Regions from separate parts of the Homo sapiens genome. Here region 2 is linked to region 1. The links come from fine-mapping of genetic effects on gene expression. Tissue or cell type: esophagus muscle. Region 1 holds a variant in brackets; the other region holds the start of a gene. All regions are shown on one strand. Distances are from middle to middle.

What was found. PIP is the estimated chance that this variant, and not a neighbour inherited with it, causes the effect.
Region 2: it holds the start of STAC2, and the variant in region 1 is fine-mapped to the expression of STAC2 in esophagus muscle (GTEx, PIP 0.91).

Annotation. Positions count from the first base shown.
Region 1 is chr17:39,641,333-39,646,528 of GRCh38, reverse strand. All of the region lies in intron 1 of STARD3 (StAR related lipid transfer domain containing 3), which reads right to left. Among named protein-coding and RNA genes, the nearest start is that of STARD3, 6.8 kb to the right of the region's middle. The variant C/G (reference allele first, on the strand shown) is at 2,240.
Region 2 is chr17:39,222,826-39,227,943 of GRCh38, reverse strand. STAC2 (SH3 and cysteine rich domain 2) reads left to right here and starts at 1,999. Exons shown (of 11, transcript NM_198993.5): 1 at 1,999-2,531. The coding sequence starts at 2,442. RefSeq lists an enhancer at 2,241-2,741 and a silencer at 4,404-4,573.

The sequences.
Region 1 (5,196 bases):
GTAATCCCAGCACTTTGGGAGGCCAAGGAGGAAGGACTGCTTGAGCTCAGGAGTTCAAGAACAGTCTGGGCAACACAACAAAGCCCCGTCTCTACAAAAAATACAAAAATTTGCCAGGCGTGGTAACACACACCTGCAGTCCCAGCTACTCAGGAGCCTGAGGAGGAAGGATCACTTGAGCCGGGGAGGTGGAGGTTGCAGTGGGCTGAGACTGTGCCACTGCACTCAAGCCTGGGTGACAGAGAGAAACCCTGTCTCAAAACAAAAAACAACAAACAAAAGGTTAAAATGGTAAGTTTTATGTTATGTATATTTTACCATGACAAGAAAAGGCAAGAAGCCAGACACGGTGGCTCACACCTATAATCTCAGCACTTTGGGAGGCTGAGGCAGGTGATCACCTGAGGTCAGGAGTTTGAGACCAGCCTGGCCAACATGGCAAAACCCTGTCTCTACTAAAATTACAAAAAATAGCCGGGTGTGGTGGTGTGCACCTGTAGTCCCAACTACTTGGGAGGCTGAGGTGGGAGGATTGATTGAACCTGAGGGGCGAAGGTTGCAGTGAGCCAAGATCCCGCCACTGCATTCCAGTCTGGGTGACAGAGTGAGACTCCATCTCAAAAAAAAAAAAAAAAAAAAAAAAAAAAGGCAAGAATCCCTATGTCACAGGGATGGGTGTTGAGGTAGGTGTCAGGAGGGAGTATGGTAACCGCTTGGTCAGTGGTGGTTGAGATAGATTAAGTAGCTGGCAAGACTTTTCGGGTAAGATGGGGCTAGGAGCAGTGGCTCAGCCCTTTGGGAGGCTGAGGTGGGAGGATCCCTTGAGGTCAGGAGTTTGAGGCCAGCCTGGCCAACATGCTGAAACCTCGTCTCTACTAAACATACAAAAAAATTAGCCAGGCATGGTGGCGTGTGCCTGTAATCGCAGCTACTTGGGAGTATGAGGCAGGAGAATCATTTGAACCCGGGAAGCGGAGGTTGCAGTGAGCCGAGATCACACCATTGCACCCCCGCCCGGGTGACACAGTGAGACTCTGTCTCAAAAAAACAAAACAAAACAAAAACCTTTCAAGTAAGAGGGAAATTGTGAGCGAGGGAGGTTAAATACACTATAGTGACATGTAATAAAAATCACCCCAAAAGGCGTGGGTTCAAATCTGAACTCTACAATTCACCTGCTGTGTGGCTCAGAGCAAGCTCCCTAACCCTCTAGCCTGGTTCCTTCATCTATAGAAAGGCCAGGTTATCCAGCTGCAGGCAGAGGTGAATTCCAGGTTGGGGGAGGGGCAGGAAGTAGAGGACTGTCCTGGCTCCTGGCAGAGGCTCTTAGGGGAGTGCAGGGGCTGATCTCTACTCCTTCCTCTTGAGACCGGCCCCTCTGCAATTGCAAGCTCCCACCCAGGGAACAGCATCGGCTGCCCCTTCCCGCAGACAGAAGAGGAGGACAGCAGGATGGCTAAGCCGCCTCCCACTCACCCACCTCCAATTTTCAATTTCCACAAATCTCAGGCTGCAGAGCCACAGACAGGGTTCCTTGCTAGCCCTTCGTCATACCCCAGGCCAGAAGCTCCAGACACCTTTCTTCAGGGAGGCGGCTCCAAAGCCCAGCTGACCGACGGCAGCTCTCAGTAGGCGTTTCCTAGCCAAGGCAAGTCTGCGATTTTTTTTTTTTTTTTTGAGACTCTGTCGCCCATGCTGGAGTGCAGTGGTGTGATTACAGCTCATTGCAGCCTCAAACATTCCCTGGCTCAAGTGATCTTCCTGCCTCAGCCTCCTGAGTAGCTGGGACTACAGGCAGATGCCACCATGCCAGGCTAATTTTTCTTTTCTTTTCTTCTTCTTTTTTTTTTTTTTTTGTAGAGACAGGGTCTCACTATGTTGCCCAGGCTGGTGTCAAACTCCTGGACTCAAGCAATCTCCCCGCCTTGGCCTCCCAAAGTGCTGGAATTACACCACACTTAGGCTTTTATACCTGGCCTAGGTCTGTGATTTGAACAAAGCCACCTACTCATTGTGCAAGCCTCCACTGCTGCATCTGTAAACTGAGGCTACCTGTCTTGACCCTGGGCTGTCTGGGGGCACCAAAGGAGACAATGATAACTATAGCGTGCCTAGGACAGTGCCTGGCACCACAGAGTAACTGGTTAACGTCTAACCACATAGACATTAACTACCACCACCACTTCGAGTCTCCTGGCTCTTCCCCACCTCCTAGCCTCCCAGGGAGGGCTGGGCCAAA[C/G]TTTACAAGTTCCAGCTAGAGCTTATTCCATAGAGCTGTGCCCTGGGATTCAGGGGGAGGGGGAACAAGTCTCATCTATATCCAAAGATGACTTACATCTCTGGGCAGAGTGGGTTCTCCAAATCCCCCAGAGGCTAGAGGAACAGTAGACACAGGTCCTCCACACATCCCCCTCCCATAATCCACAGGAAATGCTAGCACCAGCACCCCCTGCCCATGGGGGCTTCCCAAGGGGTCCCTAACTCAGCACAAATCAGGAAGGATCAGTGAAGCTGAGAGAACTGGACTCCACACCAGGAGATGGGTCAAACCTCAGATTTCCACCTTGCTGGTCACTTAACCTCACCATGCCTCAGTTTCCTCGCCTATAAAATGGGGTTAACAATATCACCTACTCCTTGCAGGTTTATATGGATTAAATGACTTATTCAATGCAATGGCCTAGAAGAGATTCTGACACAGAGTGGTGGCTGCATGAGGGTTAGCTGGGATTACTTTCCTGCTCTTCTCCAGAGAAAGAGAGAGTCTTGAGCTCTGACTGACTGGCGAGATGGCTTCAGGGCAGGGCTGGGGTTGTTTTGAGTCAAGCAGCCCTGTCAATGCCAAGTTAATGGAGACTCCACAGAGGGTAGAAGGCAGAGGCCCTGGGTGTGGAGGAGGTTGGCCTTGGTCTATGTCCTGCTGCTGGCTGGCCCAGGAGGGTGCCAGTTAGGGGAACGCAGGATAGCAGACCAGACAGGTTGCACTGCATCCAGATGGGCTGGTGCAGAAGACACAGATCCAGCTGGCCATGGCCTGCGGTGGCACCATGCAGACACCATCTCCTTAATGCATCACACCCCTTCCCAGAAGCTGTAGTGATGACTCATGGGAAGGAGAGCTGCCCACAGTCCCCTAGCCAGGAAGAGGCAGAGCGGAGCCGACCCCAGAGGAACATGACCTTCCCCCATGACAGGCTGGGACCTTCTAAGTACAAATGCTGCTGCCTGCAAGAGTCCTTGCTAGCTGGGGGACAGTGTGTCAAGAGGCCCTCTTTGGGCTTAGCATTCATCTGGTCACACCTCCCTTCCACATCCAAACCATGAGCAAATCCTGTTGTCTCTTCCTGCAAAATCTGGCCAGTATCTGCCCACTGCTCACCTACCACTATGTCACCCTGTCCAGGCTATCACCTCTACCTGCCACTCTTTCTTGTCTTCACCCCTTCAGCCTGTTCTCAACACAGCAGCCACAGGGATCCTGTTAAAAGCCAGATCACATCTCCCCAGTGCCCCAACCTCCAATGGCTTCCCCAGAATAAAGGCGTAAGTCCCCACCCTAGCCTACAAGTCCTCCTCTTCCCCTTTCCTCTTCCCCTTGAGCCCTCTACTCCAGCCACACTGGTCCCTCGCTGTCCACGGACACATCAAGCATGCTCCTACCCCAGGGCCCTTGCACCTGCTGCTCTGTCGGGAGCTCCTCCCCAGGTCTTTGCATGACTTGCTCTCTCATTCCAATGAGGTCCCTATGCAAATGTCCCTTTGTAGAGACCATTCCTGAACCTCTATTTAGCCCCCACCCTCCATCCCTTACCCTGCTGTATTTTTCTTCACAGCACTTGTCACCCCTGACATATGATACATTCACTGGTCTGTGTTTACTGCCCATCGTCTCCCACTGGCATGCGAACTCCATGAAAGTAAGGACTTCCTGTGCTTTGCTCCCTGCTGCATGCCCAGTGCCAGAACTGTACCAGGCTCAGAGTGGGTTTCCAGGAAATGCACTGAACGGCCATTTACACCCTTCCCTACAGCAGCACATGCACAAGTGCACATGGACACTCACGCCCAGCCGGGAGAGCAGCCCCTCCCTGCCCAGGCTGCCTCTCCTGGAGCTGGACTCCACCCTCTGTGGGGGTCTTCCCTGCCCAGAGCCCAGGCACTCCCTCCACAAGAAGGAAAGAGGAACTGGTTTCCTGGGGGTCCTCAAGCAGGGTATCTGCTCCCCTCCCTGAGCCTGACTTGTAGGGAGAAGACGTAAGGTGAGTTAACCTTGAGTCTTTGATAACAGAGGAGGGTTAAGGAGGAGGGAGGACTCCAGACCCCAGCACTCATTTTTTGCTATGGGGGTCAACACTCGCTGCCTCTACTCTGCTGATCATTGGCTGCTCCCAGGACACACCACAGCCCATCGCCTGGGCGCCCTGTTTCCTCATTCTTGAATGACCTCCTTCCTTTGGGGAGAACTCTGGCGCTTCAGAGACTAGTTCAAATGTCACCTCCGGGGCAGAGCTTCTCCTCACCCTCCAGACTCCCCTGACCTTTCAGAACTCTGGGTCAGCACTTCCCTTATCACAGCTAGATGTCTCGAGGCCATCTGTCCCAAGCCCTTGAGGTCCAAGTCACAGTCACAGTGCCTGGCCATGATACATGTCTAGTAAGTTAGCCTGTGGATCCATAATGTCCACCCTGGAACAGGGAAAAGGGTGTGGGTTTGGGGTTGGACACCAGTCCTGGAGGCAAAAACCTAAGGCCATTCCTTATTAGATTGTGTGCCCTTGACCAAATCACTGGGTTTCTCTGAACTTCAGTCTCCTTTTCTGTAAAATGGGGAGAATATAGTACCTACTTCACAGAGCTTGAAGGGATTAGAAACAACACATGCACAGTGTCTGTGCTTAATTAATAGCAGCTATTACTACTATTACCCATGGGGACAGTGTTAGAGGCAGGACCCTGGCCAGGCAGGTCCAGCATAGCACTTTGCCCAAACTGAGAGTCCCAGCAGTACTGCAGAATGGAAGGGTAGACCCTGGCTTCAGGGGGCTGACCCAGAATGACACTTTTTTTTTTTTTAAGAGACAGGTCTCACTATGTTGCCAGACTGGAGTGCAGTGGCTGTTCACAGGCGCGATCATAGGACACTGTGGTCTCAAACTCCTGGGCTCAAGCAATCCTGCCTCAGCCTCCCAAGTAACT
Region 2 (5,118 bases), 420 kb after region 1:
TGGGCTGGGCAGGAGTGAGAAGGACAGTCCAGTGGGAGATGGGGGAAGGTTGGCCATGAACAGGCCTTTGGGGAGACTGATTTGATGGCACTCAGGCTCCATCCCACCTTCCTCAGGAAATCTCGAAGTCAGAGCCCCTACAACCATGAACCCTCACTGTGCCCTTGTCCTACTTCTGCCACTGGCAAATAAATCTCTATTCCTGGACAGGGTAACCTGAGCAGGGCTCCAATGGTGAGCTCGTGCTTGGGAGGGCAGAGATCCTATGAATGGCTGTGTGCATGGGGGGAGGTGAGTGGGGGGTGGAGGTGTTCACCCCACCCCTCAACTTTCAGGCTAGCATAAGGGCCCCCTTCAGCACCTCAGGCCCCCCATGTGGCACCCCCCACCCACAATCTTACCACCCACAGCAGAGGAGGAGGGAGACTTAAACCCAGAAGTCTCTCCACCCACACCAGGGAAAGGTTCTCTCAGCCACCAGTGCATCTCCCTTTTCTTGGGCAGACCAAGAGAGGAAGCCAGATCTGCTGGTCAGAGCCAGAAGGGGCAGAAGGAAAGAGGGCTGGAGGTGAGGGAGGGGGACCTGAGAAAATGGGTCCCAGATAATCAACATGCATTAGAAGAGGTATCTTGGTCAGGTGTGGTGGTTCACACCTGTAATCCCAGCACTTTGGGAGGCTGAGGCAGGAGGGTCACTTGAGCCTAGGAGTTTAAGACTAGCCTGGGCAACATAGCGAGACTCCATCTCTACAAAAAATTTTAAAATTAGCTGGGTGCAGTGGCATGTGCCTGTGGTCCCAGCTACTTGGGAGGGTTGAGCCCAGGAGGTCCAGGCTACAGTGAGGTGTGATCAAGCCACTGCACTACAGCCTGGCCAATAGAGCAAGATCCTGTCTCCAAAAAAAAAAAAAAAAAAAAAAAAAAAAAAAGAAGAAGAAGAGAAGGAGAAGAAGAAATATTGGAAATATCTTGAACGGGCACAGTGGCTCACGCCTGTAATCCCAATACGTTGGGAGGCCAAAGTGAGAAGATCGCTTGAGCCCAGGAGTTGGAGATCATCCTGTGTAACATAGCAAGACTTGTCTCTACCAATAAATTTTAAAAATTAGCCAGGCATGGTGGCGTATGCCTGTGGTCCCAGCAACTAGAGAGGCTGAGGTGGGAGGATTGCTTGAGCCTAGGAGTTTGAGACTGCAGTGAGTTATGATCGCACCACTGCACTCCAGCCTGGGTGAAAGAGTGAAACCCTGTCTCTAAATAAAAAAATAAAAAAATAAAAAATAGAAGGTTATTGTGGAGAGAGGGGCACCTTGGAAGGTGATGGTGAGGACCTCTTCCCCCACCTCTCTGTATTATCCCCTGATCTAACTCCAGTTGTGGTAGGATCTTTAGGAGGGGAGCGTGTCTCAGAGAAGTTTGGGGACTTTGGGTGTGAGGACTGAGCCCCCATCTCTGCTGAAGTTCAGACGCCAAGACTGGAAGGGGATAGAGTCATCCGGCTTTCCATCACAAGGAGGAATTGTCCGGCCTGGCCTTTGACACATACACCATAGTCCAGTTGTGTGTATATTTGGAGAGAGCCTTTTCAGGGTATAAAGGCATCCAATTAATGGCACAGATGGGTCCCCATTCTTCCTTCACCAACCTCTGGCATCTATCAATCTTCGCTCTTTGGAAGTCCTAGCTTCGATCTCACTCTCCGCTATCTTGCTGCGGCCCCAACCTATTTCTATTCCCTGCAACCCATCCAGACGCTACTATGATCTCCCCAAGCTTCCCTCAATCTGGTCACGCCCCTCCATCCCGGGTTTTTCAGTGTGAAACTCCCTCCTCCGCTTCTTTCCCCGCCAAGCCCCGCCCCATCGTGTCGAGCCCCCCAAGACTCCGCCCAGTTCGCCCTCCTGGCCACCGAGGCAGCCAATAGCTGAGAGCCTGATTTGCAGGGCTGCGCGGGGGAGCGGCGTAGGGCAGGGGGCGGGACCAGGCGACCTCCTAAATCAAAGTTGGGCGGCGAGGACTGGGCGGAGGGGCCGCCGGGTGCCGGGCTGGGGCCGGCGGGGGAGGGGAGGGGATGGGGGGCGGGCGCAGCGGACGGCGGAGCCGGCTGGACACGGACAGCTCCTTGGCTCCCTCCCTCGGCTCATCCCCGCGGCCCCACTTCCCTCCTCCCCGCGCTGCGAGCAGCATCCTCTGCAGACCCTCGGTCCTCGCGCCCGGGGTCGTCCCGCTCCTGCGGCTCAGCGTGGTGGCCTCCCCTCGCCCGCCACCCCGGCAACTTTCTCTGCCCGCTCCCGCGGGTTGGGGGCTGCCGTGCCGGGGGCTAACTGGGGGCAGCCTCTGGAGAACGGCTTCAGAGTCCCGGAGACGCCCGCCACCCGCAGCCTGCCCGCGGTGGGCCTGCCGTCGGATCTCGGCACCCTCTCCTCCCCTCTCCCCGAACCATGACCGAGATGAGCGAGAAGGAGAACGAACCGGATGACGCGGCCACCCACAGCCCCCCAGGGACCGTCTCCGCCCTCCAGGAAACCAAGGTAACTTGGGGGGCGCAAGGCCTGTCCGCGCCCCGGGCCCGGGCGCCCTCTTCCCGGCGGGGTCCTCCTGTGGGCCCGGGCGTCCTAGGGTCGCGGTCGCGAGGCCCGCGTGACCACTGAGGCTCCGCGCCGCTCCCGGGGGTAGGAGTGGGTTGGCGACGAGGGGCCACAAGGAGCCCCCGATCACACCGGCACCGCACGCCCGCGCGCGCCATCGCGACCTTCTGGGGAGGCGGCCACTGGTCTTCGTTGGAGAGATGGGCGCAGCGAGGCCGGAGGGCGCGCGTGGAGCGGTGCGGGCGGGGTACGCGCCCGGCTGTGCGTGCGAGGCGCACCCTCCAGCGGCCGCCGGGTCCCAGTCCCGGGCTCAGTCCGCGCCTCTATCCTCGCTCGTGTCTCTGAATTTGTCTCTACAACCTGCGTGTCTGTGTCTTGGTGTCTCTGTGTGCGTCTCTCCCCGTCTCTCCCGGCGTCTCCGGGTGTTTATCTCCGCGTCTCAGGGCGTCTCTCCCTGCCCCTCCGCAGTCCTGCATTCCCCGCTCCTAGCCCTGTTGGGCTCGGGGACGCGAGGCCGCGGCCGGGGGTGCGCAGCTGCGGAGTCCGCGAGGGGGCCTGCAGCAGCGCCGGCCGTCGGTCACGGGCGAGGACGGGGGCCTGCGGTTGTGGCTCCAGACCAGAAAGACAGGCAGCCCCGCGCCCCACCACGGGAGCGGGACCAGAGGAGGGGGAGCGGGTAGAAGCAAAAAGAGAAGTCATCGTAATTAATGAATGTCATCATTAACCCTAATTATGGATGATTGTTACTCCTGAGGGAGTCACCATGAATAAATTACTCCCCGCGAAGGCAGGCGGAGCCCAGACTCCTGGCGCTGAAAGGGGTGTGGGGAGGCCGCCGCTCACACTCAGCACTCCCCCGACCTCTAATCCGTCTGCTCCCTTCCCAAGTTCTAGGTGCTGGCGACTGGCCCGCGAGAAGTTCTGTTTCTGCGGGATCAACCTGAGCGGGCCTGGGGTTGGGATAGAAAGGGCTGTGCCAAGGGCGCGCCCTGCCACCTCCCAGACTTCAGGCCAAGACCTCCTCCCTCCCCCTTCACCCGGTATTTTGTTCCCATCCTGCTCCTGTTCTCCAGAGGCGAAAGGGGACAGTGAGGACCAGAAATGATGGGAGCCTGGGCTCCGGAGGCGTCCTGGGTTCGCTAGGCTTCTTTCCACTGTCCCCCTTCCTCCTTCTTCCATCTTGACCATCCCGCAGGAGCTGAGGTTAATTCAAGGTCAAGGTCATCAAGGGAGTGACCGGAGGAGGAGGCCGTAGGGTCAGGGTGGAGTCTGGCAGAGGCACCCCAGGGAGCCCCCATCCTGCACCAGGGGACCCAGCAGGTCTCCACATTCAAGTCTTCACATGCACACCTGACTCTCTCTTGCCCCCTTCTAAAAATGAGACTCTGGTCTGTGAGGCCAGAGCTGACTCCCCTTTAGAGAGCCAAGTCTCAGTCTCTCCTGGGAAAGGACTAAGATGTTTGGGTGGGAGGATATTGCTTGGAATATTTGTGACAACTTCTGTCAAGCAGAAGGTCTAGGAGCTGAACCTCCCCTGAGTTCCAATGCCCCTGATTTCGGTTGCCCTCTAGTCACCTGGGTAGACATACACAGTCCCCCTGCTTGCCTCCAGGGGCTTGGGGGCCTCCCAGGCCCTGCCCTGTTTCCCACACCAAGGCCTGTCCTCTCCAGCCTCCTCCTATGTGGGAGTGCTGGAAGGCGGGCAGGAGTGTGGGGTAGTGCTGCCTCAGTACTCCAGCAAGCTGCCTGCTCAGCTGTGTGGGGAGGGAAGGTCAAGGGCCACAGGTCTGTACCTCTCCCTCTTCCCAGGCCAGGGACCCTCCAATGTTGTCACCTCTGGGTCTGAGCTTGGAGATTCAAGGAGTAGGGGAGGGGAGGGGTTACACCCCTGATCCGGCCCTTCTGTGTCAGGCCAGCTGGAGCCCCGGCCCTCCGCCCCTCCCCTATACATCACTCTTGTGAAGGATTCTGCACTAACACAGACTGGGCTGTGGGTTGGGTCGGGGGTATTCAGCAGGGCAGAGGTGGGCAGAGAGAGAACTCAGGACCCCTGCTAGCCTCCTTCCATCCTGCACCTCAACCTGGCCCAAAGAAGCTCCTGTCTCCAGACTGTGGGTGGAGATGGAAGAGTACAGTTGGGTGCCGCCCACCAAGCTCAGTGTGAGGCAGGTACAACAGAGGGGGCCAATGCCCTTCAGGCAGTGATGCCAACATTCCAGGCTTATTCATCAGTGTTGGTGCCCCCTGGGAATCACTGGCCAGCCTCCTGCTTGCCCCCAGGCTGAATCAGCCCTGCACCCAAGCCACCCAGCAACCTTCCTAGCGAGTCCTCCTCCTCTCTTGGTCTCCTTCCCTTCTTATCACATAAGGCCTGCCCATCACCCTTTGTTGCCACCCCTGGGAGGACCACCCCATGCCATCTCTGCTGTGAGTCAGCTTGTGCCACGTCTGCCACCACCCACTGCCAGATGCCTCATGCCCTTTCAGGAGACGCCGTGGGGAATTGAGGAAATAAGGGGCCGTCCAGGAT